Regions from separate parts of the Homo sapiens genome. Here region 1 is linked to region 2. The links come from fine-mapping of genetic effects on gene expression. A gene starts in region 2. The other region holds a variant in brackets. All regions are shown on one strand. Distances are from middle to middle.

Region 1 (16,224 bases), 82 kb before region 2:
GGAGATGACCAATCACATGACAAGACTCCTGCACAAAGGGAAGAAATGAGATGCTGCAGCTGAGGAGGGCGGCCAACCTGGGAGGCATCTGGCTCCCCTGACAATGCCTGCCGATCGCCAAGCTGGCTTCCAGACCTCCTGGGACAGAACTGTTCCTCCCAGGACGCTGGTGTAGGTTCAAGTCCAGTTGATATTTACTAAGCAACTGCAATGCCCAGGCCTGTTCCAGTGCTGCAGAGAGTAAGTGCTTATGGGTGCTTATATTCAGAGTAAGTCAATACACCAGCTTCGTATGACCTGCGTCTTCGGGGCCAGCAGGGCAGGTTGGTCTCCTCAGCCTCACACTGGAGCTCCTGGCTGGCTGGTGTCTGCGGTCAGGACCCTAGTGATGGGAGGCTCAGCAAACAGAGGAGGCAGAGGGGCTGTTCTGAAATGACCTTGAAACGACCTATCACCCTCAGGGGTGGTCTTACTGGATGAAGTCCAGCCCGCCATAGGCACTGAAGGGCTCTCATTTGCTGAGCCCTTGCTTTGCGCCAGGCGGCTCTTCCTCTGCCGACACTGATCAAAGGAGGGTGCGAGGCTCAGCTACTGAAGCCGGGGTCAGACTTGTGGGCGTGGGCTTTTCTAATGCCAAACCCACGGGCGCCAAGGCTTCTCAAGCTCATCCTGTCAGCCCCTGAATTTCTAACTGGCAAAGCTCCACGCTAGCGGTGGGGGAAGAAGGAGCCAGAGAGACCTGAACTGCAAGGGGACCCCATGTGGGATGGTTCAGGGGAGCAGCAGGACAGCCAGGCCCCTGCCAGCACCTGCCTGCGGTCTCTCACCTGGTCCCGACTGCAATGCCTCCTGGCAGGACAGAGCCGCCGACTTCTGTCCCGTAAGAGCTGTGTGCAAGGTGGGCCCTTGTCCGTGTTGCCAGCTGAAGACTGACCCAAGACTCGGGAAGAGAACTGGGTTGGATCTGTTCTCAGTGTGGTCCAGATCTGCCATGTTGGCACCAGCTGGGAGTGTGTTAGCAATGCCGACTCTCAGGCCCCCCAGGAACTCTGTCGGGGATTCGGGTGCTTGCTGTTTGAGGACCACTGGATTAGATATCAGCAAGGTCCTTCCTGAGTCTTTTCTCAGCTGTCCCCTTCTCGAGTTGCCTTGGCATCTCTCATCCTGGGTTCTGAATCCTGGACTCCCTACTCTCAGGACACCCCATGCCTCCTACTCATGCTTTGCGGCACAGGCAAGGTCTCCAGAAAGAGCTGCGGGTGGGGCATGGCCACTAACTGGGAAACCTTGGCCACGGACAGGGATTCTCTCTCCTTCTCATTCTGAAATCCTATGATCTGGTGAACTGAGGTTCATGCTCACTTTTTTTTTTTTTTTTTTAAGACAGAGTCTCACTCTGTCACCCAGGCTGAAGTGCAGTGGTAGGATCTTGGTTCACTGCCAACCTCCACCTCTGGGGTTCAAGCAATTCTCCTGCCTCAGCCTCCCGAGGAGCTGGGACTACAGGAACGCACCACCACATCCGGCTAATTTTTGTAGCTTTTAGTACAGACAGGGTTTTGCCATATTGCTCAGGCTGGTCTTGAACTCTTGACCTCAGGTGATCCGCCTGCCTCGGCCTCCCAAAGTGTTGGGATTACAGGCGTGAGCCACCGCACCTGGCCCATGCTCACATTTTTATAAGCACAACGGCAGTAACCAACAGAGCCATTTTTCTGAGGCCTTCCTGTGCCCAGCACTGGGCCAAGCCCTTGACTTAATCCTTATTATCCCAACAAGGTTGGAGTCAGCAGGCCTGGGTTCTTGTCTCAGCTCTGACACTTACTAGCTGGGGGAAAAAGGGGAAGGATGTGGGTGGGCAGTGGCAGAACCTTCTTTAGGCCCCAGTTTTTGCGTTTTGAAGGCAGGGCTTTGGAGGGATGAATCACAAATCAGTATGCTGTGTGAAAGCAGCCAGACACGAAAGAGGGCACCCGGCGCAGTTTCATTCACATGAAGTTCTAGATGAGGCAAATGAGACTACGCTGGAATCAGAGCCGGGGCTGTGGTAGTTTCAGAAAGGGGGCAGTTTGGACCGGGAAGGGGCAAAAGGGGGCTGCGTGGGGTGACGGGCACGTTTCATCTTGATTGTGGTGGAGGCCACAGGACTGTACATCCATTTGTCAAAACGCAACAAACGGTACATTTAAAAAGGATGGATTCTACTGTAGGTAAAATATGCCTCAGTTTAAAACATTCTTAGTAAAATATGGGCTTTGGAACTGAATGACTTCTAAAAATGCTTTGAGTCTAAAATCCTGGATTTCTCTGCTTCCAACATGGGGTAACCCAGAGCTATTGCTAACCGATGCAGAAGGTGCATTTGCGCCTGTCACAGTGCGGGCTCTGCGCCAGGCCTGCCATCTCCCCTCAAATGGCAGCAGTGCCCCGACACTGGTTCACAAGACATCGCCCGCCTCCAGCGTAAGCAGGACAGCAGTAACCTACAACCGGTTTTCAGTTATCTGGGTCTTAATTGCGCTGCCACAGATCGGCTAAGATGCCTGGAACTTCTCTAGTAGGTGTCACTATTGTCAGTAGGAGCTGGTGGGAGGCAGTTAACTAATTTAATGAACAAAAATCACAAAGAAAAAAATTATGAGATGGAGGTGGAGGAGAGACAGCACCAGGAGCCGGCAACTCCCTGCATCTCAAACACACACGGTTCTGCCAGATAATCTTTATTTTACACATTTGCAACACGGCAAGAGAATTCACCCCGTACATCACCATGATCGGATCCCCCACCCATTATACGTTGTATGTTTACATAAATACTCTTCAATGATCATTAGTGTTTTAAAAAAAATACTGAAAACTCCTTCTGCATCCCAATCTCTAACCAGGAAAGCAAATGCTATTTACAGACCTGCAAGCCCTCCCTCAAACGAAACTATTTCTGGATTAAATATGTCTGACTTCTTTTGAGGTCACACGACTAGGCAAATGCAATTTACGATCTGCAAAAGCTGTTTGAAGAGTCAAAGCCCCCATGTGAACACGATTTCTGGACCCTGTAACAGTATCTTACGTGCTCCAAAGGCTGACCTTCTGGAGGCTCACCGCCTCATCTGGCTGCTTCCTCCAAAATCCAAAACCTTGCCTCAAAATAAGCTGTCCTGTGGGTGAGTTGGCTGTTCTGTTTCATTCTGACCATTCTGACTCTGCCCAGAACGCCGTCCCACCTGCAGACACCCTGCTGCCAGAACTCCAACAGGTCCCCGAGGTAGCGAGGCCAAGCCATGCCCATTCACTCCTGCACCATCTCAGTGTGCTCCCTCACACAGGGCCTGAGATGTGTGGGGCCCATGGCCTGGCAGTGAACCATCTAAAAGCATTATCTATTTTTCAAGCATAAACCACGCAGAGAGGCTCAGATGCATCGCTGGGCTACAGAAGTGGCCTCTGGGGAATCTGGAGTATGTTCAGCCTGCCGACCGATAACTACGTTCCAGGTGGTGACAAGTATTAGCGTCAACTCAGGTAGATGCCTTTTAAAAACGCCCTGCCAGAAACACCCTAGGGAAAACTGGAGTGAAGAGCGGGTCTTTCAGAACATTTGGTACTTTCTGGATGAATATCTTTTTGATATACCAAGAGGCATCAAGTCAAAGTCTCACTTCTATAGCGAGGAAGCCATTAACTTGCTGAATCCTAAAGGGAAGAATCAAGCCGCAGGCCACAGGCATCCTGGACTTAGCTTACGTGAGTCTTACAAGGCCAGGGGCGGGTCAGAGAAAAGCAGCGGGGTGAAGTGTGGAGTGTGGAAGCAGGGGTGCAGCAGTGTGCTAGATCTGTTTCCTTTGAAGTACAGCAGCTTGGCAGCATGAAGCATGAGTTGTTCCACTGTTCTACTGGGTGTATGGAGCTGGGCCAACAACCTCAGCAGACTATCTAATGTTCTAAGAGCCTTCCTCAAAGAAAATGTTTCAGGACGGGGGAGAAGGCCAGAATGCATCTGCAATTCCAACAGGCATCGCTATGCTCTTCCTTGGTCTGTAAGGACTGGATGCCTGGAGTAGACTGTTTTAAGTACCAAAACAAGACACCCATTTTAGTGTGGAGGAAGACCAGCCTATATGGCCCAGAGCAATAATATTTGGCATGAGTATGCCACTCTTGAGAAAATTCTCCTTAGCTTAGAAAATGCATCTTTCACACAGCTGCTGGGAGAAAACGCTGCAATGCACCAAAGCCTTTAGCCGGTGTACCCAGAATGAGCCTATGTGGGATCAATAGGCACGGGGAGAAAGATGGCAGAGAAGGGAAGAGGAGGGAGGAGGAGGGAAGGAGGAGGAGAAAGAGGTGGAGGAGGGAGGAGGAGCGGAAGGGGAAGGGGGAGGGGTAAGGGCGAGGGCAGAGGAGGAGGGGGAGGGGATGGGGAAGGGGGAAGGGCGAGGGCAGAGGAGGAGAGAAGAGGGAGGGAGGCTGTGGAATGAGACAGCAGAGATGGCGATGAGGTCATCACGCAGGAGGAAATCTCACCCACACGAGGTGGACTTACAGGGCTGTGTGCTGCCTGGGCAGGCTGGACATGTCCAGGGCGGGGAAACCCTGGATATTTCACTCTGAAGTGGTTTCTTGAAAGAAAACTCAACTGACTCAGGCCATGAGCATCTTTTACACTGAAGCAAGCATCTCCTCACAAGTGCCTCCTACAAGTCACTAGAGTCATATTCAACATTACAAAATGCAGTGCTACTTAAATTTTAAAGCACTGAGGGACCAAGAAATGGGCTGATCAAGTCCTTGGCCACTCACTGTTAAGAGCCAGGATTTACAGATCAATGACTGTTCCTATTGTCCAAGAAATAATTTTCTAGCAAAGCATACACACTTTATTAAATTTCACAGCCAGCAGCGCTTTCAGTCCACAACAGATTTCTCAGAGGAAACATGGATATTTTGCGTAGGCAGAAACAGTGAGGAGTACAAAGCAAAGCTATAAATACCACCAATGGTTCTGCTATGTGCATCCGATATTTTTTGCCCGATCTGAAATACTGCAAGGGCTTAACCATTCAAACACCGCATGACAACGAACCCAGTGGACTGTGAAACTCAGGCTGCAGGAGGGTGGCTTGTCAGCTGGTGAAGCCACTTGGCTTTGGACTCCATCGGTCATCTTTACGCAAGAGCAGAGATGAACGGTGGGTCACGGCTATGACGTGAAGGAGAAAGAGAAGACACACTCACAGAACAGGATGGAGAGCTTCAATAATTTTTTAAAAGCTTGGAACCACCACCTGCTTTCCCAATCTTGGGCTGGGGTTTTGACTTTTCTTGATCATCAATCTGACTTGAAGCCTTTTACCAGTTACAATACAGACATGGCCAGATGACCTGCTTGTTAGGAAGGCTGTGGCCATCTTTGTTTCTGAAACAGTCTTATCTCATCTGTCCACTGCTGCTCTGGAAGGGTCAGGACCAGCACTGCAGACACTCGGCCATGCTGTGAGTGAGCCCAGACATACGCGTGGAATCTGAACACCCAACGCTGGCGTTCCCGTGCCAGTCTGAGGGCTGCGGCTCCAGCGCTTGTCCACACACACGCCTGCCTCTCTCTAGTTCCTCCACTGCCTGGCTTCCTCGCTTGCAAAACCCAGCATGTGAAATGAGGACACCTCCACGGAGACCCTTCCGAGCAGGGAGGTTTCATCACACCTTTCGTTCTTGCCAAGGAGTCTATCGCCTCATCCACAACATCTGCTTGCGGGAGAAACAGCAAATGTGTCCCTCTGAGGGAAGGACTGAGGAGGGCTTTGGTAGTCACAGATTGAGACACATTTCTGCGAAAACTGGTATTATGTTTCTGCACAGGAAAACAAAGTGTTAAAAATATTCCCATCCTCCCTCCAACTCCCTTCTGTCACACAGTCCCAAGTGAACTTGAAAAAGGTCCAGAAGTGAACACTTAGGGTGCATTTACCTTTCTCCTGAAGATGGGAAGACACACGGATGCTTGCCTAAAATATCTGCCGAGAGGTGAGCAGCTGTGGCCTGGGAAGGCGCTTGCTCTTCCTCCACATCAGCCAGAAGGCAGATCACACCTTCAGAGCACCCTACAGAACCCAGATGGCGAATCAAAGTGCAGAAAAAGAACACCCGCTTCCTCATTAGTCATTTAGGAAGATAAGATAGCATGGGACAGGGAGAACAACCATGTTCTGAATGGAGACTTTTTCAGGTTCCCAAACTTGGGACAGTGAGTGTGACCCCACATCCTGTGGTTTCTGCCTGACCCTTCTAAGCCAGAGGTGAGAAAACAACTCCCAGAGACCACGACTCTCACCCTCGGAGGTACCTGTTCCCCTGCAGGTGTGGCTCTCTGACAACCCCTAGGCAGGGGTGGGCTCCAGCTTTTGGAAGCAACCCTACCTAGCTGGCCCCCCAAGCATTAAGAAGCTTCCCTGATGGGGCCATGTTTTGGTCTCCTTTTAAGCCCTCAGTCACAATGTACCTTCTGAGCTTGTCCTACTATTCAGATGATTTTCTCTCTGAGTTGCAATACTGCTCAATTTAGGTGGCTACCTGTGTTCATTCAAGCTCTGGAAGTGTGGAAGGGAACTTAATCATTGAGTTTCTGTGAAGTATTTTGCCATCCTAAAATCCCTGAGAGTGAAACTGTTGAATCATGCTCACTTTCTTCACATACATACTCTTGGACTATGGGGACCAAGTCTGTTGAATTCATCTATTTAGAAATCCTACTAGCCTACAGGAAAAGCTTTTTAATGGGGATGATTTGCTTGGACTTAAGTATTTGCTTAAATACTACCTATTCTGCCCCCAGCTGCTCCTT[G/A]AGGAAAACTTTCCATTTCCCCCAAAATTCTGATCAAACACAACAAAGCCACAAGCATGAAGGGAAGCCAGACAGTGCTGCTCTGGGCTGTCAGGGAGTGGATGTCCAGGCAACGCCACAGGATAATGCTTTTTGAACTTAAAAATACATTTCTTTCCATCCATCAGGCAACATCTCAGTCAGAAAACCACCTCCCACCACCTGTGCTGTGCCACAGGGCATGATCCTGACAGCGACATCACAGCCTTCTTTTCCTGTTGGAAAGAAGACCACTGGGCCTCAGGAGCTGCTGTCCTGGTCACTCTCAGCATCTGGAATAAGGGTCTGGGGCAAAGCCGAGGGCAGGAATCCTGGGGCAGGTGCTACATCCTAAACTGGGTTTTGACTTTGCTTTCCAAAGTCACCTGTTTTCGTTCATTTTTGTCTCCCAAACAGGCAATGGCACTCTCCCCGCCCTTCTTCTTAAGTCCCAGGGTCCTCAGTAGACATTTCCTAAAGCATCAGACAGACACCTCGCACCCTCCTTCCCCCTCCACCAGCCGTCCTTGCTACACTTCCCCACACATGGGGTCACAACTGCATACACCTTAGAGCTCCGAAATGAAGAAGAAAAAAAGAAACCTAAATTAAAAATGAATTCTTCCTTTTCTCTTCCTCTCCTCCTCCCTGTGCCCGCCCTCCCATTCCCGCCTGAAAGAGGATCCAGCTGCCTCTAAACAGCCACAGATCGTTTCCATAAAAGAGAGTACAAAATCAGGTTTCCGCGGCACTGTGCTCCAGCCATGTGCCCTGGTGTCACTGTCGGTGGTGCCAATAGTTCACTGTAGGAGCTGCTCCTGCTGTCCAATAGGACTATGAATAAGTTAACAGTTTCCTTGGACAGTGCCATCCTCAGGGTCGGCTCTGTCACACGGCGCCTTCCCACTCGCCCTGGGGCTCCACGGAGCCGTTGGTCACCTTCTTGACTTTCTTCATACTTTCCATCACCCCAGATGTTGTCACACTGAACAAGGAAAGAAAAAACAATTAGGAACATCTCACAGTCTCTTAGTAAAAGGCCATCTCTGCCACAGCACGGTGATTAGGACTGATGATGGGTGTTGGTTTTTGAAACAGACAAAATCTAAGTGTGATTCCTGGTTCGTTCCTTACTAGCTGTGTAACCTTGGCCAAGTCACTTGAACTCTCTGTGCTTAAGTAATTCTCACTTTCCAGAACTGTCATGAGGAAAAATGAGATTCTCCAGAGTGCCTAATCAATAAACACCAGCTATCGTTATCACAATCATCATGAATCTTTTTGTCACAGCTTGCGGAATTTTTGTGGCGCACAGATATGTGATAGTTACGCTTATGAGACTGAAATCTGACTCTTAATGGACATTCAGAAAAGAAAGCTAATTAGCCAACCAGACATTTTTAATAAGCAGCCACAATGGATCATTTCTGAGCCAGGGGACAGAACCACAGGTTTAGAGGAACCTTCCAGGATCAAAGATTCTTTGGCCACTATAGACAGAGAACTGGCTGCTTTCTGCTAGCTGGGGCTGGGCCATGTGGCTGTGCCTCAGCGCATGGCCTCTGCCTCCACTCTGTGAGCTCCCGGGGCTCTGTCTGTTGGTGCCTGGCTCTGAGGAGGCCCCATGGAGCCATTCGTTGAAATCAAGGATTAAAAATGGAAGATCGCTGGTCTCGCAGGGCATGAGGAGCTGAGCAAGGCAGCCCTTTCCATTAGAAGGAATCACATGCACGGGCCCCACCTTCTCAAGAGGATAATCTCTTGCCTCACAGAAGGTGAGCTGGTCTATGAGGGAACTGGGTGGCTCTGTGAGTAGCAGAACTAGGCAGAGATACTGGGTGTCAAAAGCCGCTTGGCCCAGCATCTTCCCTGCAAGCGAGGAAACAATGAGGATTTATGCTCCCCCATGGTGGACCAAAAGAAATTTCCTCATCAGTAAAATAAATTCAATCAATCAACTCAACAGGCTCTTTCCAAGGACCCAACCCATCCCTCTGCCAACTACCTAACCCCTTCCCCTACAAATGGCAACACAGTGGCCGTATATGTGACCCATCTAGAGTGCATGCAGCTGGACCTCATGGTAAGTAAATGTTTGTATGGGGTAAGGGAAGAAAACTTCCCCCTCTTCTTCATCTCTTCATTCTTGCCATTATGGTGCTACCATGCCCAGGCTCAAAGAATCCCCCAAGCCGGAACCTTTCTCAAACGAGTCCTTTAGACTCACAGGTTATTTGTACTTATGGCAAAGTTGGGACAAGGTATGTGGCCAGATCCCATAGATGCTATAAGTGACTCTAAAAGCATCCCCTAAGACGAAAATGCCTCAGCTGAAGCCGCCCAGCGTCACTTCTGGCCAGCTGGCTTGTGTCTCAGGCCTGGCCTCTTTAGGAAGACACTTGCCCCAGGAGGGATCCATGTGCACAGGGCTGCTCCTGAAGGGACCTTCTCTAGACGGGGATGCAGGAGGTAGGGCCTTTGCATGAGCCAGAGAAGCCCCTGCCCCGAGCCACGTAGCAGCCCCCGTGCCTCTCCACAGTGACTGAGACCACAAAGAAATGCGACCCCACGTCTTCCAGAAACACTCCAGTAATCACACAGCTGTCCTATGGTTACTGCATCTTGTTAAAAAAGGACAAAGAGTTCAATGCACGTTGATTCTAAGAGGCAAAGCGCATTCACTGTGACCCGGATATGGGCCTGACGGCAGACTTGGGAAAAACATTTTCTCCCTTTCTTTCTCTAAGAAAATACTCCTTTCCACATGGTGGGCCAAGTGAGAAAACAACTTTTATTCTTCAAGACAGGCCTCATGCTAGGTCATCAAGGAAAAAGAAGTGGTCTTATTGCTCTTCGGAGCCCACAGCCCAGGAGAAGAGATGGTCTTCCACAGCAACCCTGCAAAGCCACTTCCAACAGAGACAGGAGTGCTGGGAACCGGGTTCGGTGATGGCTCGGGCTGAGAAGAATCCCTCTGCCGGGGAATCGGGGAAGCCAGGAAGCCCGTCATGAGATGCAGAGGATCTGGCCCACAAGATGGGTGGGAGGTCAGGGGAGTTTCCAAAAAGAAGAAATATAACAGGCAAAAAGCATGAAGGAAAAACCCAGGACATTTCCCAGGGCAGTGAGGGAGTGCTAAGTACTTGCAGTGTGTGGATTGTATATGTGTATATATATATAAATATATAAAAATATATATATATTTTTTTTTTATTTGATTTTTTGAGATGAAGTCTCGCTCTGTCACCCAGGCTGGAGTGCAGTGGCGCCATCTCGACTCACTGCAACCTCCGTCTCCTGGGTTCAAGTGATTCTCGTGCCTCAACCTCCCAAGTACCTGGATTATAGGTACATGTCCCCATGCCCAGCTAACTTTTGTATTTTTGGTAGAGATGTGGTTTCACCATGTTGGCGAGACTGGTCTCAAACTCCTGACCTCAGGTGATCCACCTGCCTCGGCCTCCCAAAGTGCTGGGATTACAGGCGTGAGCCACTGCACCTGGCCTACGGCAAATATATTTTAATACATCCAGCCAGTCTGGGAAGGAGAGTGGCAGGGAGAGAACCAGGGTGGACACAGGACGGCAGGGTTGTCGAGGGCCCAGTCTGCCTGGTCACCCAAGGATGGCCTTGATTCCTACTCTGGCAGTTCTCAGCCCTGCCTCCTGCTCAGGCTGCCCTGGGGAGTGAGAAAAGCACAGATCCTGAGCCCAAGGGGTGAGAATCAGAGTCTCCAGGGGTGCGGCCAGGAAACTGGCACTGCAAAAACACTCTACAGGTGATTCTAGAGCCCGGGAGAATGGACAGGAAGGGCTGGGCACACCTGTATTCCCAGGGCAGCTCACGCCTGCATTCCCAGCACTTTGGGCGGCTGAGGCGGGAGGACTGCTTAAGCCCAGCAATTTGAGACCAGCCTGGGCAACATGGCAAAACCCTATCTCTACAAAAAAATACAAAAACATTAGCTGGGCATGGTGGCATTCATCTGTGGTCCCAGCTATTAAGGAGGCTGAGGTGAAAGGATTGCCTGAGCCCGGGGAGCTCAAGCCTGCAGTGAGCTGTGATAGTGCCACTGCACTCCAGCCTGGGTGACAGAGTGAGACCCTGTCTGCAGGGGAATAGAAGGATGGACAGGAAGGGGAGAGGATCGGGAGTGAAGAGGTCAGCCACCACAAAGCCCAGGCACGAGAGCAAGAGGCGGGGTGGGGCTGGGGGTGAGAGGCACAAAGTAAGGCCTACAGGACGCTCTGCACGGGCTGAGGAAGAGGGACGTGGTTCAGCCATGGCTGCAGGAGACTGGGTGGATGTCCGTGTCACCAAGGCCTATAGGGAACAATGGGGAGGGGCGAGCTTGGTGTGATGCAGGAAGACTGTGGCTTCAAGGCTGAGGTGACGCGGAGCAGGAGGACAGGGGGACCTGGCATTCAGGAGGGGCCGGGGGCAGTGAGGGGGTAGCAGGGGCAACCCTGGGCTTGGGTGAGTCCTGGGAGTGCGAAGAGGGAGAACGGGAGTAAGGGTGTGTGGTAGCGCAGGAGGTTGTCACAGGCAGGGCGGGTGACAGGGAGCTTCAGTGTGTGGCCAGGACTGGGAGTGGCAGAAGTGAACTCAAGGAGAGGAAGAAACCTGATGGCAGATGCCCAGGGTGGGGTAGGCGCTACATCCTGTTCCCCCAGCAAACCTCTGGGAAGCTGAAGGGACACCTGGGGCCCCCACGATGTGAGGAAACCTGGCTAGCCCCCTGCAGACAGGGCGCCCGCAACGGTCCTGGAAGCTCAGGCTCTGCAGCAGTGAGAAGAGAGACCTGGGTCAGATGAACACCCAAAAGCCTCCCTGGCAGGAACATACGGCGGTGGGGCTTCAGCAGCTTCGCAGCCACCTCACTAGGTGTCCTAGTTTTGGTGCAAACACTTAAGGGACCGAACAGCTGAAGGGCCAACATCCGACCGCCGCAGATAAGCGTTCTTTCCTTGACATCTAAACAGTAACCCCCTTTCCTTGCAAAGCCCCAAGTCTCTGTGTTTGCAACCAAAAGTGCCAAATGGGACACAGGTTCCTTCTGCCACACAAGACTGCAATCAAATGTGGCTTGGGCCTAAGTGGTCCACGGATTCATGCGTTTTTTTTTTTTTTTTCTTTTTTGAGACGGAGTTTCACTCTCATCGCCCAGGCTCGAGTGCAGTGGCGTGATCTCAGCACACTGCAACCTCCGCCTTCCGATTTCAAGAGATTCTCCTGCTTCAGCCTCCCGAGTAGCTGGGATTACAGGTGCCTGCCACCACGCCCAGCTAATTTTTGTATTTTTAGTAGAGATGGGGTTTCACCATGTTGGCCAGGCTGGTCTCGAACTCCTGACCTCGTGATCTGCCTGCCTCGGCCTCCTAAAGTGCTGGGATTATAGGCATGAGCCACTGCACCCAGCCGATATATCCATTTCTATAACTAAAAAGTGTTTTCTGGTCTGGAAGTGTGGGGAGACCTGGTGAAGAGACAAGTCTATTAGTCCCCAATCCCCATTTCCACACACGTTCCTCGCCCACATGAAATAATGCAGGGAGTGGTGAAAGGTGAACAGCAACCATGAATGAGGACAGCGTTCTGGAATGGGAACCCCAGGGAGAAAACCTCCTGGCCCAGGAACCCACACCAAACATTTCCTTCCACTCTCACTCCTCAAGATGACAGAAGTAATTCAGATCATTGAGGATACCCACAGCCTAGGAGGCAGCTACCAAGTCTGATAATTGAAATCGCATCCGATACTTTTTAACTTGCTGATTATTGACCGGTAACTTCTGTTGCCAAAACTGGTAGGCCTAAAGAGAGATGGTCAAAGAAACAGAAGGGGAAAGAGAGAGAAAGTCAGTGTTACTTTGGACTGTGCCCTCATACCCAGGCCCAGAGAGAGAAGCTGTGTCAGGCCTGGTGGGGTAATGGCTGCACAGAGGGCAGCTGCGTGGGCCGCGTTGTCAAAGAAGCACCAAAACAAAATTTTAAAAAAATTGTTGCCACGAAACAAAAATACCTTCATAATGCATCCAGGCTCCAAGATGTAACGGCTGAGGGAAAGGATGTGGGAAGCGGGAACCTCCCATTACGACTGTGGAGTACAATGCAGTAAAGGAGACGATGCTGCGACCCGGCCGCTCGGCTTCTAGCTGCCTACCCAAAGAACCCCGTGTTATGCGGACGGACCAAGCCAAAGGCTCCCAGCAGGGGAATGATAAACACACCGCGTCTTAGGTTATTTCCTGATGCTGCTGGTTGCCAGCCTGACATGTGTGCCTCTTCAACCAACAGACACTTGCTCAGATCCTGCCACTTCTGGGAAAGGCACAGCTGATGGGCCTCCTGCACTCCTCTCCACTGTTTAGAAGGAGGTGTTTCTTCCTCTGCATGGGGAGATGCTGTTTGGCGCCCGCTGGCAGGACCTGCCTTCCTTTACTGTTGCCGTGGAGCTGAGCAGAGAGAGCTGTCCCATGCTGCCTGACCCGCTGACAGCCAAGCAGAGCTTAGCATGGGCCGAGTCTCAGCCTCTGAATTGGGAAGAATTCAAAGGCTGCCAGGGCTGGGGGCAGAACACTTGATACCAGTGAACCAAGAAGGGAAAACTCTGCCTTAGGCTAATCATCAAACACAGCATTGACCTGGCTTATCAAATTTCAGTTAACAAGCAAATATGCTTAATCACTACTCATTTTTCTAGACAATGATGGCCCTTTCCCAGAAAATAGGACCCTAGAGTCATTCACTGTGTGACTCAGAAAAGCCCCTATTAGTGCTCAGATATAGGTCAAAGTCATTGTGCTGTGAAAAGCCACGCAGTTATCTGACGATAGAGGATGTCTGAGGATCATTAGCAGACTTAGAGATGACTCAGAAGATTCCATTTTCAGACGTAAGCGCCTGATGGCGGGCCTGACAGAAAGTCGGCCCCCTGTTCTCCCTCGTGAACTGGCCACGTATATTCCTAAGTTCTTGCCACTGAGTTCTTGAAAGCAGGCTCCAATGATGCTTAGTGGAACGGCAAGTTCCATCTTCCCTGACAAGACCCAGCTAGGTTTGGCAGATACTGTACTTCAAACCAGATCAGACAGCCTGGGGCTCCAGTGTCCGCTTCCTTCTGCTAAAAATAGAGGAACCACCCCTGCAGCCACGAAATGCTGAGAGCAGCCGACCCGATTCACACTGTGCTGCTTTGTGTTAGGCAAAGGGGTCAGGGCTAAGGAAGAGGGAAGAAAGATTTCTTACACGGACTCCATTTCCAAGTCTTCTTCTTCCTGAGAAAGTTGTAGGTAGGGGTTATCTGAAGCCGGACGGAATTTATACCCCGTTAGAACAAAGAAGACCAGTGTGGCCGTTTCATCCAGGAGCTGCAAGTTTAAAAACCACCCCAAAATAAAGAGATTAGCAACACTGTTCTTCAGAAAGCAGTGGAATTCAACAAACTGACATATTTCCCCACAACCCACCACTCGATGGTTCTTTACTCAGATGCCACTTCCTGCTACAGGGCATTTTCCTTAGACTTGCCGAGGCCTAAACGAGGAGTGTCCTGCCCAGGGCTGACATTTCCGAGGCTGTGCTCTGCTGTGCTTTCACCAGTCTTCATGGGTAGCTTTTAAGAGCTCACCACATACCCACTTCCTCCCACAGTGCCTACAGCACCCAGTGAGTTATTCAAGAAAAAAGTCATTTGGTGGCTTCCTCTAGTAGTTAAGCTAGTTCTAGTTTGTCGCAAAGATACTTATTATCGAAATAATAAAATGGGCAAAGAAGAAGGGCAGCCTGAATTCTAACTACTCAGCCCTGTAACTAAAGGAAAGGACCACATCTCATCTAAGTTCTAATGATTCAGGGCAAATCTTTCTCTACCTGAAGCTTTTCTCTTGACTTTTAAGACTGAAAACTAAAATCAAGAATGCAATTATTTTCAGATTCCTCATAGAATCCAGCAGCATTTCTGGACAAACAGATCATCTCAATTATAGGCCAGAAGAGATGGAAGGAGGCCAAGTGTGGTGGCTCACACCTGTAATCCCAGAACACTGGGAGGCCAAGGTGGGCGGATCACTTGAGATCAGGTGTTTGAGACCAGCCTGGCCAACACTGCAAAGCCCCATCTCTACTAAAAAAACAAAAATTAACTGGGCATGGTGGTGCATCCCTATAATCCCAGCTACTCAGGAGGCTGAGGCAGGAGAATCGCTTGAACCCGGGAGGTGGAGGTTGCAGTGAGCTGAGATTGCGCCACTGCACTCCAGCCTGGGTGACAGAGTGAGACCCTGTCTCAAAAACTAAAAAAAAAATTTTTAGTTAAAAAAAAGAAGAGATGGAAGGTCTTAGTGGTCATTCCCAGATAAATTAGTAACAACTGTTAAGTTACACTTCAAGACTTTATCCTCAGGCATAAATTCTCTGGCATTCTGCCCTGTGAGCAGCGTACCTGGTAGAGCCACTTCCACTGGAATGGAACAGCGAGTTTGAGGAGAAATGCAATGATCCTAGTGAAGTATATGTAACACACAATCTGCATGAGGAGGAAAGAAACAGGAAATCAGATCAACATTAAAATTAGGACACCACTTTAACAATTTGCTTTCACAAATGAACTAGGAAACAGAAAACAGAATCACTCAAAGAAAAGTATGTGACACTTACAGTGTGAATTAATACGTGCAGCGGAGAGACATGGCTACTCTGCTAGTTACACTTGAATTTCTTCTCTCTCTCCAGGTGACCAAGATATTGCTAACAGCCACACCCACCGGGAGCACAAGACACTTTAGTCAGGTTGTTCTTAACCCTTCCTCACCCTATCCACAGACATAAGCCCTTGATTTCAATCTCCAAAGATTTTATTTCTTATGCTCAGGCTTTGAGGAATATTTACCAGTAGTAATAGCAAAATAAAGCCACACAGGGAAATTACTGACTTCTGTCCTCTTCTCTGGCAGATGCTGCAAGCATTCGAGGTCCACACTCACAGAAGTACAAATACTACCAAGTTCTCTAGCAAGACAGGATGCCTTCATTTCTCCTTGCAGTGACAAAGACTCAATGTGCTGGCCACTAGAGCATGGCCTGTGCAAGGGGACTAAGCTCAGCTGGCCTGCTGGTCAAGGACCACTCATTATCACTGCATGCAACAAGAGAGGTTCTGTGATGACCTGTGCCTATTTGGTGGATGACATAAAATCCATGGGAAAGAAAAAATAAAACAAAGAAAGAAAAAAAAAATCAACCCCAAGTGGAGTGTCTGCTCTTGCATCTCTCTCTACCACTGAAGTCTGATGTTTGCTTGAGCAAAGGAACTGTCTGAAGTGACAATGCCAAACGAACAGATGAAAGACTTGGAAACAGGGCCG
Region 2 (16,224 bases):
AGCCAGAATGATCAGTCATCAAAATATTGTGTTTTTAACACAATATAAAAATCATATTTAGACAATTTTTGATGTAAAACTCAGATTAGCCGAGCACAGTGGCAAGCATCTGTAGTCTTAGCTACTTTGGAGGCTGAAACGGGAAGATGGCTTGAGCCCAGGAGTTGGAGGCTATCGTGCACTATGTTTGCACTGGTGAATAGCCACTGTACTCCAGCCAGGGCAACACAATGAGACCTTATCTCAAAAAAAAAAAAAAAAAAAAAAAACTCGGATTATCATTTTTATTCCATTAATAAGAAATGGATAGGCTGGGCGCGGTGCCTCACACCTGTAATCCCAGCACTTCGGGAGGCCAAAGTGGGCAGAACATCTGAGGTCAGGAGTTTGAGACCAGCCCGGTCAACAGGGCAAAACCCCATCTCTAATAAAAATACAAAAATTAGCTGGGCGTAGTGGTGGGTGCCTGTAATCCCAGCTACTCAGGAGGCTGAGGCAGGAGAATTGCTTGAACCTGGGAGGCGGAGGTTGCAATGAGCCGAGATCGCGCCACTGCACTCCAGCCTGGGGGACAGGATGAGACTCCGTGCGCCCCCCAACCTCCCCCCGAAATAAAACTTATTTACTGATCACGCTGGGCCTGGTGGCTCATGCCTGTAATCCTATCACTTTGGGAGGCCAAGGCGGGTAAATCACCTGAGGTCAGGAGTTCGAGACCAGACTGACCAATATGGTGAAACTCCGTCTCTACTAAAAATACAAAAAATTGGCCAGGTGTGGTGGCAGGTGCCTGTAATCCCAACTACTCAGGAGGTCGAGGCAGGAGAATCACTTGAACCCGGGAGGCAGAGGTTGCAGTGAGCCGAGATTATACCATGGCATTCCAGCTTGGGCAACAAGAACAAACTCCATCTCAAAAAAAAAAAAAAAAAAAAAAAGACGTATTAACTGATCACAGTATGAGGATGTGACTTAGATCCTGATTTTTCAAAACTTTTTCAATCCATTTATGACCAATGAAAATTTGAATCTGATCTGACATATGATACTAAGGATTTTTTTGTTATAATAGCATTGTAGCCATGTTCTTAAAAGAGCTCTTATTTTTTACAGGTAATATCAAAATATTTAAGAATGAAATGATGCAATGCCTTTGATTTGCTTTATTTATTTATTTTTTTTTGAGATGGGAGTCTCACTCTATCGCACAGGCTTGAGTGCAGTGGCACAATCTCAGCTCATAGCAACCTCCACCTCCTGCGTTACAGTGATTCTCCTGCCTCAGCCTCCCCAGTAGCTTGGATTGCAGGCGCCCGCCACCGCACTCGGCTAATTTTTGTATTTTTAGTAGAGACAGGGTTTTACCATGTTGGCTAGGCTGGTCTCGAACTCCTGACCTCAGGTGATCCACCTGCCTTGGCCTCCCAAAGGCCATTACAGGCATGAGCTACCACACCCAGCCAATATGCTTTAAAATAATATAGGAAGACAATGACAAATGCTGATAACATTGTGAAGAAAGAGAACTCTCATAAATTGCTAGTGGGATGTAAAATGGTAGAGCCACTTTGGAAAATAGTTTGGCAGTTTCTTAAAAAGTTAAACATAAATCTATCATATGACCCAGCAATTCTACTCCACTCCTGGATATCATCCAAGAGAAATGAAAACATATGGCCCCACAAAGCCTTGCAATGTGAACGTTTATGGCACCATCATTCATAATGGCCAAACAGTGGAAACAACCCAAACATCCATCGACTGGTGAACTGCTAAGCAAAAGAAGATATATCCACACGCTGGAAGACCATTCAACAGTAAAAAGGAATGAATTACTGACACATGGCACAAAATGAACGAAGCTCAAAAAAGAAAGAAAGAAAGATGGGCACAAAAGCCTACCTATCGGCCGGGCGCAGTGGCTCACACCTGTGATCCCAGAACTTTGGGAGGCCGAGGCGGGCGGACTGCTTGAGGCCAGGAGTTCGAGACAAGCCTTGCCGCCATGGCAAAACCCTGTCTCTACTAAAAATACAAAAATTAGCTGAGCGTGGTGGCAGGTGCCTGTAATCTCAGCTACTCGGGAGGCTGAGGCAGGAGAATCGCCTGAACCTGGGAGGTAGAGGTTGCAGTGAGCCGAGATAACGCCATTGCGCTCCAGCCTAGGCAACAGTCCGAGACTCCGTCTAAAAAAAAAAAAAGAAAAAAAGCCTACTCATCCTGTGATTCCACTTACATTAAACATCCAGAAAGGGTAGGTTTATAGAGACAGAAAGTAGATTAGTGGCTGCCTGGGACTAGTGGTGGGAATGGGAATTGATTCTAAACCAACACAAGGGATCTTATGGGGTGACAGAAACGTTCTGTGGCTAGATTGTGGTCATAGCTGTACAACTCGGTAAACTTACTAACAATCATTGCATTATACAGTTAAAATGGGTGATCTTATGGTATGTAAATTATACCTCAATAAAGTTGTTCTTAAAAGGCAAGGAGTATTTCCTGCTGACAGGTCTTTAAAAAAATAAACAAAAATAATAAATAGCCAGGAGCGGTGGCTCACGCCTGTAATCCCAGCACTTTGGGAGGCCGAGGCAGGTGGATCACCTGAGGTTAGGAGTTCAAGACTAGCCTGATCAATATGGCAAAACCCCATCTCTACTAAAAATACAAAAATTAGCCAGGCGTGGTGGCGCATGCCTATAATCCCAGCTACTTGGGAGGTTGAGGCAGGAGATCGCTTGAACCGGGAGGCGGAGGTTGCTGTAAGCTGAGATCGCGCCATTGCTTTCCAGCCTGGGTGCCAGAGCAAAACTCTGTCTCAAAAAAAAAAAATAATAATAATAAATAAATAAAAAGGCAAGGAATATAGGGAAAAGTCAAAAGAGATGGACTGTGAGAAGACTGGGAAAGCCAGAAGAATGGTGGAAAATGTAGCATGGAGTAAGACAATAAAAATATAAGAGGACTCATTTCTAATTTTAAAAATAATAAAAAATAAGAACCAGAAATTGATGTATGTGGGATGAGGCAGAATCAGCCATGTGTTGATGGTTATTGAGGGTGACAGGCACATGGGAGTTCATTATGCTATTCTATCTGCTTTAGTATATTGGAAATTCTCCACAATAAAAAGGTTGTTTTGCTTTGTCTTTTTTTTTTTTTTTTTTAAGAAATAGGGTCTCACTCTGTCCCCCAGGCTGGAGCCATTATAGCTCACTACAGCTTCTGACTCCTAGGCTCAAGGGATCCTGCCACCTCAGCCTCCCTGGTAGCTGGGACTATAGGTATGCACCACCACATCTGGCTAATTTTTGTTGCTGTTGTTGAGATGGGGTCTTGCTCTGTCGCCCAGGCTAGAGTGTAGTGTCGCCATCATAGCTCACCGCAGCCTCCAACTCTTGACCTCAAACGAGCTTCCCTAAGTGCTGAGATTACAGGTGTGAGCTACCAGGCGCAGCCAGGTTTTAAGAGATCAACGCATACTCCTGGTACTCAGTGACCTCTTCATGTTATCCTTGCCATTATGGGTCTCTAATCTGATCAAGTACCCTATTTCACTCAGTCTCAAGCAAAACAGACAATCTAAAGTTGCTGCTCTGACAGGCTCTCTTCAAATGATTTCCATTTCCTTGGGCAAGAACTCAGAACAAGCTTGTCCAGGATGCATGCGGCCCAGGATGGCTTTGAATGCGGCCCAACACAAATTTGTGAACTTTCTTTTTTTTTTTTTTTTTTTTTTTTTTTGAGAAGGAGTCTCGCTCTGTCACCCAGGCTGGAATGCAATGGCGTGATCTTGGCTCACTGCAAGCTCCGACTCCCGGGTTCATGCCATTCTCCTGCCTCAGCCTCCCGAGTAGCTGAGACCACCGGCACCTGCCACCACGCCTGGCTAATTTTTTGTATTTTTAGTAGAGACGGGGTTTCACCTTGTTAGCCAGGATGGTCTCAATCTCCTGACCCTGTGATCCGCCCATCTCGGCCTCCCAAAGTGCTGGGATTACAGGCGTGAGCCACTGCGCCCAGCCAAATTTGTGAACTTTCTTAAAACATTATGAGATTTTTTTGCAATTTTTTAAAGCTTATCAGCTATGGTTACTGTTAGTCTATTTTAGGTGTGACCCAAAACAACTTTTCATCTTCCAATGTGGCCCTGGGAAGCCAAAAGATTGGACACCCCTGACTTCGGATGTTTATTTTATTTTATTTATTTATTTATTTTGAGACGGAGTCTTGCTCTGTCGCCCAGGCTGGAGTACAGGGGCTCAATCTTGGCTCACTGCAACTTCCTACTCCTGGGTCCAAGCGATTCTCCTGCCTCAGCCCCGAGTAGCTGGGATTACAGGTACCTGCCACCACGCCTGGCTAATTTTTGTATTTTTAGTAGAGATGTGATTTCACAATGTTGGCCAGGCTGGTCTCAAACTCCTGACCTCAAGTGATCCACCCACCTCAGCCTCTGAAAGTGCTGGGATTACAGGCGTGAGCCACCGTGCCCGGCCAAGTTTTGTCTACATTTCTACATGCACTTTTCTGGAGAGAGGTTCTATAGCTCTCAACAGATTCTCAAAGAGTCAAAATTCACTTGCCCCACCCCCACCCCTGTGATTGAACCATTTTAATCAGGATAATTTTTACCTACAAACAACAAAAGTTGTTACCAAAAAGTAAGGTTGTATGGATCCAGTCAGGCTTGCATTTATTTATTTATTTATTTATTTATTTGAGACAGAGTATAGTTCTTTCGCCCCGACTGGAGTGCAGTGGCACAATGATCTCTGCTCACTGCAATCTCAGCCTCCCGGGTTCAAGCAATTATCCTGTCTCAGCCTCCCAAGTAGCTGGGACTACAGGCATGTGCCACCATGCCCGTCTAATATTTGTATTTTTAGTAGAGAGGGGTTTTGCCATGTTGGCCAGGCTGGTCTCGAACTCCTGACCTCAGGTGATCCGCCCACCTCGGCCTCCCAAAGTGCTAGGATTATAGGTGTGAGCCACCGTGCCCAGTCAAGCCAGGCTTTTAATTTCATTCTGTATTCTTTAAATTCTACATTAACAAAATACAATGCTTCATAGTTTGCTAAAACAATGTGTTTTTACAAGACAAACTTTCTACAGTTCCACTTCTTTTTTTTTTTTTTTTTGAGACGGAGTCTCGCGCTGTTGCCCAGGCTGGAGTGCAGTGGCGGGATCTTGGCTCACTGCAAGCTCCGCCTCCCGGGTTCACGCCATTCTCCTGCCTCAGTCTCCCGAGTAGCTGGGACTACAAGCGCCTCCCAGGTTCACGCCATTCTCCTGCCTTAGCCTCCCGAGTAGCTGGGACTGCAGGCGCCTGCCACCACGCCTGGCTAATTTTTTTTTTATTTTTAGTAGAGATAGGGTTTCACCGTGCTAGCCAGGATGGTCTCGATCTCCTCACCTCGTGATCTGCCTGCCTCGGCCTCCCAAAGTGCTAGGATTACAGGCGTGAGCCACCGCGCCCCGCCTACAGTTCCACTTCTTAGAAGACTGTATGGTATGAAAATAATGTACAAGAGTTTGGGTCATAACAATTTACTTTTCTATGTCTCTAATTTTGTTTATATGTTTTGAGAAAGGGTCTTGCTCTGTTCCTCAGGCTGGAATGCAATGAGTAATCACGGCTCACTGCAGTCTCAACCTCCTAGGCTCAAGTGATCCTCCAGCCTCAGCCTCCCCAGAAGCTGCAGGCGTTTGCCACCACACCTGGTTAATTTTTAATTTTTTGTAGAGACAGGTTTGGGGAGGGGGTCCTTAGCACGTTGACTAGGCTGGTCTCGAACTCCTGGGCTCAAACAATCCTCCTGCATAGGCCTCCCAGTGTTGGGATTACAGGCATGAGCCACAGCACCTGGACAATTTCCCAGATATAGTAAACTGCTGAACCACCTTAGGGTGCGTTTCAGCCTTAGAGGTCTTTTCTCTGCTAGTTACAAAGCAAGATCCAGAGTATCATTCTAGGTTTATCAAAAATCTCTCTTCCCTAGACAATGGCTGGATAGAGGAAGAAAAAGCAGGCCCTTTGATTAGAGACACACCTTAATGCTGGCTTTACATTCTCAGTCACGTGTTTTAAGCAAGATTTGAAATTCCTTCTCTAGAGTCTCGCTCCAGAGAGCGCCCTAAACCGAAATGGGAAACTGAGGCTAAGGTTCCAAGTACCTTCAAACCGCCGGTACAGTACAAGGGCACAGAAGAGCGGAGACCGCGGACAAGGAAAGCCAGCATAAAAGCTGGAGGGGAGAAAGAAGAAAGGCGATCGGGCTGCCCTGAGTGAGGAATTCAGGGAAGCCAGCAGGGATTTAAGAGCAGCCTCCCGAGTCCGTGGGGGCAACGCCACAGTTCAGCCCCTTCCCCTCCCTCAGCTCGAGTCTTCCCGCCCCGTGCCGGTCAGCCCGAAGACCCCAGCGCCGCCCAGACCCGCCTTCCCCACAGACCCCGCCACCTGTCAGTGAAAGGCCGCAGCCAGGGGCAAAGAGGTGGTCCAGTGGCTCAGAGGTCCCCAATGGGCCAAAGTTGCCCTAAAACCCGGGGAGTGGCCTCGGCCTCCGCCCCCCGGCCCGGCCTTGCCAAGCTTTACCTTGAGTGCCAGGTGATGGACGCGGCCCAGGCCAGGCTCGGCCAGCAACTGCAGCAAACCCAGCATTGGGAGCAGCCGGAGGCCCGCGGCCAGCCTAGGACCGCGGGAGGCGGGGGAGCCGACGGGCGCCAGAGCGGCCATGTTTGTTCCAGCATCACCAGCCGCTTCCTCTCCCGCCCACGTCCGGGGTGAAAGGGCGCAGCCGCCGGAAGGGCCCGGGGAGCGGGGCTCGGCGGCTAGCTCCGCTGACCCTGTGGTCGTTTTCCTGGAGATTGCGACCTAGGAAGTCGTCGAGGAGCCTGTGCTGCCCACCTCGGGGCCCTTCGATCGGCCGCTCCTGTGCAGACTTTCAGTTAGAGATGAAGCCAACCTATTGGCGGTTGCCATAACAACGGTGGCCGAACCAGACCAGCCCGGGCCGCACCTCCGCCTCGCTGAGCTTTGGAAGCGACCTTGGGCTCCGGGGACCCCTGATCTCAGGGTCGGGGGATAAGCTGTGTCAGCCGCACGGTGTCGGGCCACTGATTGAACTGATTTCACTGAGCGTTGACTCGGAGGAAAATATCTAAAAATTCCCGGCTCGCCGTAGGGGTCCTGTGGTTTTCTAGGCGCTTCACACTCAAATACAAGCGAAATGGTTGCAATAATACGATTGATTGAGCCCTTATGAGGCAATTTGTTAGGCCTTTTGTTGTATTTAATTTTTGGAACAATTTGATGAGCTAGGAGGTACGTATTATCATTATTCCTACTTTACAGGTAAGCAAACTGAGGCTCTGAGAAATAAGTCATTTGCTCCAGGTTGAGCTGGGAATCACACGGAAGCTCTTAACTCCTGTGTTCTGTTGCCTCATGCTATTTCATCCAACCCCAAGTCTGGGTCTTAACATTTTTCTCTTAATTCTGTATGGAAACTTTCTTTGCTTCTTTCAGAAATTATAGGAACTTCTTTTTTTTGAGACGGAGTCTAGCTCTTGTCACCCAGGCTGGAGTGCAATGGCACGATCTCAGCTCACTGCAACCTCCGCCTTCTGGGTTCAAGCGATTCTCCTGCCTCAGCCTCTGGAGTAACTAGAATTACAGGCCTGCGCCACCACGCCCGGCTAATTTTTGTATTTTTAGTAGACACGGGGTTTCTCCCATGTTGGCCAGGCTGGTCTCGAACTCCTGACCTCAAGTTATCCTCCCGCCTCGGCCTCCCAAAGTGCTGGGATTACAGGCGTGAGTCACTGCGCCCAACCTGCTTTGGAGTACTTTTTATCTTTTAAAGTTAAGTGGCATCTTTGAAAATCTCTGGTTTTAAATTTGAATATAATACTGTACTAAAAACGAAATGAGGCCTGGCAGGGTGGTGATTCGCGCCTGAATCCCAGCACTTTGGAACGCCGAGGCGGGCGGATCACTTGAAAGTCAGTTGTTCGGGACCAGCCTGGGCAACATGGCAAAACCTCGTCTCTACTAAAAATACAAAAATTAGCGGGGCATCACGGCCGCGCGCCTGTAGTCCCAGCTACTGGGGAGGCTGAGGCAGGAGAAGCACTTGAACCTGGGAGGCAGAGGTTTCAGTAAGCCAAGATCATGCCACTGCACTCCAGCCTGGGTGACAGAGTGAGACTCTGTCTCAATAAAAAAAAAATCAGGTAAGAATCTTAATCCCATTTTATAATACAATAGTGATGAAACATTAAAATAGTTTTAAATAGGAGACTTTTGTCTTAGTTTCTGGACAACAGTTTTATAAGGGCTTAAAACTGGGTTCATAGCATTCCTTGCTTCTCTATACTTGGGTATTATCATGTGACCTACATAGGGTCATACCAGTGCTGTCTGTCCAGGGGTTTAAGAGGATATCTTCTTCTTTCACATATTTGAAAGCTGTATTGTGCCAGTCATTATTTTGGAATTGAGAGGAATAAGAATGAGGGAAAACTGACTACAAAGACATTGTTGAGCATTTTCTCTACAGTTACTTCTTAAATTCTAGAAAACTGCTGCCTTGACAATTACATTTAGCCATGTGATTTCATAGTTTCAAGAAAAGATTATTTGCATAATCATGATGCTGTAACTGGAAACAAACAGGCTGAGTAACAGAACAAGTTATGCCTGCTTCTCCTGGCAACATTTTCAAAGGGACATTACACTTTAAGGTATTGACTGAAAAAGCCTGCAGGGGCTGGAAAGACTGATCTCCTAAGCTTGGCTTTTAGCCTTACTCTCTTAGTCAAGTACATTTTATTTTTCTATTTTCTCTCCTTTTTTTTTTGAGACAGAGACACTGTTGCCCAGGACTGAGTGCAGTGGTGTGACATCTGTTCACTGTAGTCTCCACCTCCCAGGTTCAAGGGATTCTCATGCCTCAGCCTCCCTAGCTGGGACCACAGGTGTGCGCCAGTATGCTCAGCTAATTTTTGTATTTTTGCTAGAGATGGGGTTTCACCATGTTGGCCAGGCTGGTCTTGAACTCCTGGCCTCAAGTGATCTGCTCACCTCGGCTTACCAAATTGCTGGATTACAGGCGTAAGCCACCCTGCCTGGACTATTTTCTCTAACTTTTCAGGATCAGCTTAAGGTTGCTACTAGAATGTGTAGTGTTGAATCTAGTGCTATTATTATTAAATAATTATTTGATATCGGTTTGGACATTTTCAGAACTCTTTTAAGTAATTAATGTGTTAATAGTCTCCAGTTTAAGAAAGTATAATTGCCATTTGTTTTTCTTATCAAAAGACTTGATAGGCCTGGCTGGTGTCTCATGCCTGTAATCCCAGCACTTTGGGAGGCCAAGGCTGGTGGATAACTTGAGCCCAGGAGTTTGCCACCAGCCTGGGCAACATGGTGAAACACCTTCTCTACAAAAAATACAAAAATTAGGCCAGGGGCGGTGGCTCAGGCCTGTAATCTCAGCACTTTGGGAGGCTGAGGTCAGTGGATCACCTGAGGCCAGGAGTCTGAGACCAGCCTAGCTAACATGGCAAAACCCCATCTCTACTAAAAATACAAAAATTAGCCAGGCATGGTGGCGCATGCCTGTAATCCCAGCTACTCAGGAGGCTGAGACAGGAGAATCGCTTGAACTTGGGAAGCGGAGGTTACAGTGAGCCCAGATTGTACCATTGCACTCCAGCCTGTGTGACAGAGCGAGATTCTGTCTCAAAAAAAAAAAAAATTAGCGAGCATGATTGCACCAATTCACTCCAGCCTGTGCGACAGAGCAAGACTCTGTCTCAAAAACAAAAACAAAAAAACAAAAAAAAAACACAAAAATTAGCGGGCATGGTGACACGCACCTGTAGTCCCAGCTACTCAGGAGGCAGAGAGGTGGTAGGATTGCTTGAGCCCAGGAGTCAACACTGGAGTAAGCCATGACACTTTTATCCAGCTTGGGTGACAGAGCAAGACCCTGTCAAATAAAAAAAAAAAAAGAGTTGATTGATATTGCAAACCAAAAGCCTCTGTTAAGACAGTATAGGAAACTAGTGGTCAAATTGGGGCCTAGCAATACATTCAGAAGTCAAATGCTACTTTTCATTCTTTGGCTTGAAACACCATTTCTTCCAGGATTGCAGCTAAAGTTTTCATGCATTTCTTGGGGTGTCGGGAATGCCTCCAAGTGCATCTTTTTGTAGAAAGTGATCATGGAAAAGCCAGGCTCTGACACACTTTGAGTCCTGTGGATTGGAGAGAAACTTCAAAATTACTCCTCAACCTGACGACCCTAGTGTATAACTTGCTCAGCCACAGGACAGGCAGTCTTTCTTGATTTTATGTACATCTTTACAGGGGAATTGGATTATTCGTTGTAAAAATTCATTGCAGTTTTAGCATTTCACTCACCATGGAGTTCCTGGTTTTATCCTACTCCACTTTTTCCAGTTGATTGCTTTCTTGAGTCCCTAGTAAGTAGTTCGAATGCAAAAGAAGTTGGAAATTTTAAGCTAAAAACAAGTAATTTTGAAGAAGAAAAAATCCTGAGAATTTCATTAGAAGTAGTTCTTCACCAGTAGACAACCAATCAACTGTAAGTTCAGGCAGGCGGTCCTGCTGCATCAGAAATGTTTAAAGGCCTGTATTCCCAGCTACTGGGGAAGATGGTTTGAATCCAGGAATTCAAGGCTGCAGTGAGCTATGATCATGCCACTGCACTCCAGTCTGGGCAACAGAGCAAGACCTCTCTAAAAACAAAAACAAAACACAAAACACACACAAAAAAAGAAAATGCTGAAAGGATTGCTTTATTTTCTACAATAAGTAAAAATCCTCCAGAAAACAGGAGGAAAGGAAAGGGAACTGATACTTGTGTGTATATTATGTGCTAAACATTTTATACGTATTCTTTCTTTTAATTTTTATTTTTATTTTTATTTTTTTTTGAGACAGAGTCTTACTTTGTTTCCCGGGCTGGAGTGCGGTGGTGCAATCACGGCTCACTGCAGCTTCCAACTCCCAGGCTCAAGCGATCCTACTGCCTCAAGCCCCCAAGTAGCTAAGCACAACCGTGCCGGGCTAATTTTTGTATTTTTTTGTGGAGACGGTTTCGCCATGTTGCCCAGGCTGGTCTAAATCTCCTGGGCTCAAACAGTCCTCCAACCTTCACCTCCCAAAGTGCTGGGATTATAGGCATAAGCCACCTTTCTTTCAACCTTTACAATAACCTTTGAAGTAGCATTATTTCTATTTTATTTTTTGATTTTTGAGACAGGGTCTCGCTCTCAGGAGTGCAGTGGCATGATCAAGGCTCACTGCAGCCTCAATTTACCAGGCTCAAGCAATCGTCCCACCTCAGCCTCCCGGGTAGCTGGGATTACAGTTGTGCACCACTGTGCTTGGCAAATTTTTTTATTTTTTGTGGACACCAGGTTTTTCCATGTTGCTCAAACTGGTCTTGAATGCCTGGTCTCAAGCGATCTGCCTGGCTTGGCCTCCCAAAGTGTTGGGATTACAGGCATGAGCCACTGTGCATGGCCATATTTACATTTTAAAGAAGAGGAAACTGGCCGGGAGTGGTGGCTCATGCCTGTAATCCCAGCACTTTGGGAGGCCGAGGCGGGCGGATCACGAGGTCAGGAGATGAGACCATCCTGGCTAACACGGTGAAACCCCGTCTCTACTAAAAATACAAAATACTAGCCAGGCATGGTGGCGGGCGCCTGTAGTCCCAGCTACTCGGGAGGCTGAGGCAGGAGAATGGCTTGAACCCAGGAGGCGGAGCTTGCAGTGAGCGGAGATGGCGCCACTGCACTCCAGCCTGGGCGACAGAGCCAGACTCTTATCTCAAAAAAAAAAGAGGAAACTGGGCCGGGCGCGGTGGCTCACGCCTGTAATCCCAGCACTTTGGGAGGACGAGGCGGGTGGATCACGAGGTCAGGAGATCGAGACCATCCTGGCTAACATGGTGAAACCCCGTCTCTACTAAATGTACAAAAAATTAGCCGGGCGTGATGGCGGGCGCCTGTAGTCCCAGCTACTTGGGAGGCTGAGGCAGGAGAATGATGTGAACCCTGGAGACGGAGCTTGCAGTGAGCTGAGATCGCGCCACTGCACTGCGACAGAGCGAGACTCCGTCTCAAAAAAAAAAAAAAGGAAACTGAGGCTTAGAGAAGGAAAGTAATTCAGCCAAAGCTCTCTATAGCTGTCTGGACAGAACTATACAAATCTGGCTAACACCAAAGACTGTACTCAACCCCAGTTCCTTCATTTCAGACTAATGACAACCTATGAGATCCCTGTCTTTTTTTTTTTTTTTTTTTTTTTTTTTTGAGATGGAGTCTTGCTCTGTCGCCAGGCTGGAGTGAAGTGGCGCGATCGCGGCTCACTACAACCTCTGCCTCCTGGGTTCAAGCGATTCTCCTGCCTCAGCCTTCTGAGTAGCTGGGATTACAGGCACACCACCACACCTAATTTTTTTGTATTTTTAGTAGACATGGGTTTTTGCCATGTTGCCCAGGCTGGTCTTGAACTCATGGGCTCAAGCGATCCGCCTGCCTCGGCCTCCTAAAGTGTTGGGATTACAGGCGTGAGCCACTGCGTCTGGCCAAGATCCCTGTCTTCTCAATGAGTAAACTGAAGCTCAGATAATGTAAGTAACTTGCAGAAGGCCACACAACTAATAAGTAGTGGAACACTGGGATCCCAATTTAACAATTTCAAAACCCTATCTGCTTTAAAATCTCATATCTATCTACAGCTATATAAATATCTGTCCACCTAAGATCCCGAATTAGATGTTTATTAGTTGCAAGCAGGGTTAGAATTGCCAAAAAGCCCTAATACAATTGTTTGCCTCTAACCACACAGCCATCTATACAGGGTCTCTGTTCTGTTTGACCGGATACCTTATTTCGTTGCTAATACTGTCCATGTGATCAGATTATTCAGTGGAACATGTTTGAGTCCCCCACTGAGAGTAGGAAAAAAAAAAACATAAACTTACAGGGTTTTTTGTTTTTCTTTTTGTTTTCGAGATGGAGTCTCGCTCTGTTGCCCAGGCTAGAGTGCAGTGGTGCGATCTTGGATCACCACAACCTCCACCTCCCAGGTTCACGCGATTCTCCTGCCATAGCCTCCCGAGTAGCTGGGACTACAGGCGTGCGCCACCATGCCCAGCTAATTTTTGTATTTTTAGTAGAGACAGAGTTTCACTATGTCGGCCAGGCTGGTCTTGAACTCCTGACCTCATGATCCATCCTCCTCGGCCTCCCAAAGTGCTGGGATTACAGGTGTGAACCACTGCGCCCAGCTGTTTTGTTTTTTACTTAATAATTCACATAGGGGACTTTTGTGACCAAACGTGTTGGGATTTCTTCCCACCACCAACCAAGTAATTAATTTTGTAGTGGACATCAGCTGAGTGTCCTTTAATTTAGTGTTCTTTTAATTTTTATTTTTTTTTAGAGACTGGGTCTTGCTGTCACCCTGGCCATAGTCTAATGGTGCAATCACGGCCCACTGCAGCCTCGCACTTCACCTGCCTCAGCCACCATATACCTGGAGATAGTGTCAGATATCACAAATTGAGGGCTTGGTCCTCAAGACTGCCCCCCACCCCAAGTAGGTGTCAATCTTAAGTTTTAGGTTATGTGATCTGTCTTTTTTGACGAACTGTTTATAAATCAGAAATCTCAAGTCCTCCTTTTTGGGTTTAATTTGTTACAGTGCCTCACAGAACCTAGGGAAACATGTTTATTATAAAGGATATAGATGAAGAGATATATGGAGTACGGGGGAAGGAGAGTGGAACTTCTGTGCCCTCTCTGGGCATGCCACCCTCTAGGAACTTTTTTTTTTTTTTTTTTTTTGAGATAAAGTCTCACTCTGTTGCCGGAGTACAGTGGCTGGAGTGTAGTGGCGCGATCTTAGCTCACCGCACCCTCCGCCTCCTGGGTTCAAGCGATTCTCTTGCCTCAGTCTCCCAAGCAGCTGGGATTACAGGCACCCATGACCACACTGGGCTAATTTTTTTTTTGGTGTTTTTTTTTTTTTTTTTTTTTTTTGTATTTTTAGTAGAGACAGGGCTTTCACTATGTTGGCTAGGCTGGTCTCAAACTCCTGACCTCGGATGATCTGCCTGCCTCTGCCTCCCAAAGTGCTGGGATTACAGGCGTGAGCCACCACGTCCGGCCAACTCTCTAGGGACTTTTATGTGTTTAGCTATCTGGAAGTTCTCAGAACTTTGTTTTTTGGAGTTTTAATAGAGGCTTTATTTTATGTAGTCATGATTGATTAAGCTATTGACCATTACTGAACAACTTAACTTTCAGCGCCTCTCCCCAGTCCCCGGAGGTTGGAGTGACAGTGTGGGTGCAGATAAAAGTCCCACACCTCTAATCTTGTCTTGGTCTTTATGGTGACCAGTCCCATCTTGAGGTACTAATACTTAGGGACTGTCAGCCATCAGTCATCTCATTAGTATATAAAAAGACATCATTTTGGGGTTTTTAAGGATTTTAGGAGCTATACTTCAGGAAACAAGGTTGACGACAAAATATATATTTTGTAATATCACACCAAGATCATAATTTTGTAAATCAGTGTTCCCTAGATTTTACTGAGAGGTGAAACCAGTATCTGCAACCCAGATTAACCCCCTAGATAATATCAGCGTTTACATAGAGTTTAGAGTACCCCTGGTGAAAACTGATTCCTAAGTAGGTCAGGTCACAGTAGTTTGTTAATGGGGATACTTCCTTGTCTTAGAATCACTTCCTCCTGCTCTGAAGGGAAACTGAAATGGATTTAGTTCTTCCTAAAAAATGCTGTGCTATATTTTAGCCTTTTTTCTGCTGGCTTATTTCATTTTATCTCATGGCTTCATGATCATTGGTGTCTCTCTCCTTTATTTTTTGAAGATTCTGACACTTTCAAGCATTTTCCAGTTACTGCCAAAGCTTAATGAAGTTAAAGATATTTGCAGTGTTGTATAATTAACTCACATCCATAGAGTTCTGCGGCAGCTTTTAATGGGTTCCTTCCTATAACTAACAATCTCCTGCTTACTCGTCTTAAAAAGTTTCATCTTCATGTGGTCTCTTTTTTTCTTCTGCTGTCCCTTCCTCTTCCTCTTTCTCCTCTTTAAAGCAGCAGGTTGTTTTACTTCTTGATTAGAGTATTTTCACAAGTGGTCACTGTTTTTGAGAAGTCTCCAATAACTTGGTCAAGATTAGATCATTGTATTTGACTAAAAAGTCAAGCCCTGGCAGGAAGGTGATTACTGAGGCAATGTCTTGTTAGATAAACCTGCATTGCATGTACCGTTTCCAAATTTTAGCAGACTAAACTGTGCAGCATTGTTTGAATTTCCCCCTCCAACTCACTCTGGCTATTAATCTGCCTTAGGAGATAGGTAGCTGGCCGTTCTCATTGTTATATATCTAGCAGTCTCTGGAGGAAAGAGAATTCAGACCTGGTAACTGAGAGCAAAATATTTATACAGACACAAGAATGGGGGTGGGCAGGAAGGGAGGGTTGTAACTGAAAAAAGGCAGACCAAAACAGTTTTGACAACTTAAATTTATTGTAACTGCCCAACAAAGGAAGTAGAGTTGGAGGTTTATCTGCAAGAGGTTTTTTTTTGTTTTGTTTTTTGTTTAGTAGCTCCACCTCTTAATTTATTATTATTATTCATTTTATTTTATTTTTTGAGACAGTCTCGCTCTGTCACCCAGGCTGGAGTGCAGTGGCACAATCTTGGCTCACTCCAACTTCTGCCTCCCGGGTTCAAGCGATTCTCTTGCCTCAGCCTCCTGAGTAGCTGGGATTACAGGCGCCCTGTCACCACGCCCAGCTAACTTTTGTGTTTTTAGTAGAGACGGGGTTTCTCCATGTTGGCCAGGCTGCTCTCAAACTCCTGACCTCAGATGATCCACTCACTTCTGCCTCCCAAAGTGTTGGGATTACAGGCGTGAGCCACCATGCCCGGCTTTAATTCATTATTGTTAATATTTTTGAGACAGGGTCTTGCTCTGTTGCTCAAGCTGGAGGGCAATGGCACCATCATGGCTCACTGCAACTTCAACCTTCTAGGCTCAAGCGATCCTCCTGTCTCAGTCTCCCAAGTAGCTGGGACCACAGGTGCATGCCACCATGCCCAGCTAACTTTTTTTTTTTTCTTTTTGTAGAGACAGGGT

Evidence for each region.
Region 1: its variant is fine-mapped to the expression of GPR107 in whole blood (TOPMed, PIP 0.94).

What each region holds. Positions count from the first base shown.
Region 1 is chr9:130,126,645-130,142,868 of GRCh38, reverse strand. It overlaps GPR107 (G protein-coupled receptor 107), which reads right to left. Exons shown (of 18, transcript NM_020960.5): 16 at 15,303-15,386; 17 at 14,108-14,229; 18 at 2,705-7,844. The coding sequence ends at 7,748. It overlaps GPRACR (GPR107 adjacent cis regulating lncRNA), which reads left to right. Exons shown (of 2, transcript NR_135124.1): 2 at 1-2,259. Among named protein-coding and RNA genes, the nearest start is that of GPRACR, 9.5 kb to the left of the region's middle. RefSeq lists enhancers at 240-1,013, 13,692-13,911. The variant G/A (reference allele first, on the strand shown) is at 6,842.
Region 2 is chr9:130,044,448-130,060,671 of GRCh38, reverse strand. It overlaps GPR107 (G protein-coupled receptor 107), which reads right to left and starts at 6,766. Exons shown (of 18, transcript NM_020960.5): 1 at 6,599-6,766. The coding sequence starts at 6,739. It also overlaps a transcript of FNBP1 not described here. RefSeq lists a silencer at 6,469-6,778 and an enhancer at 11,318-11,818.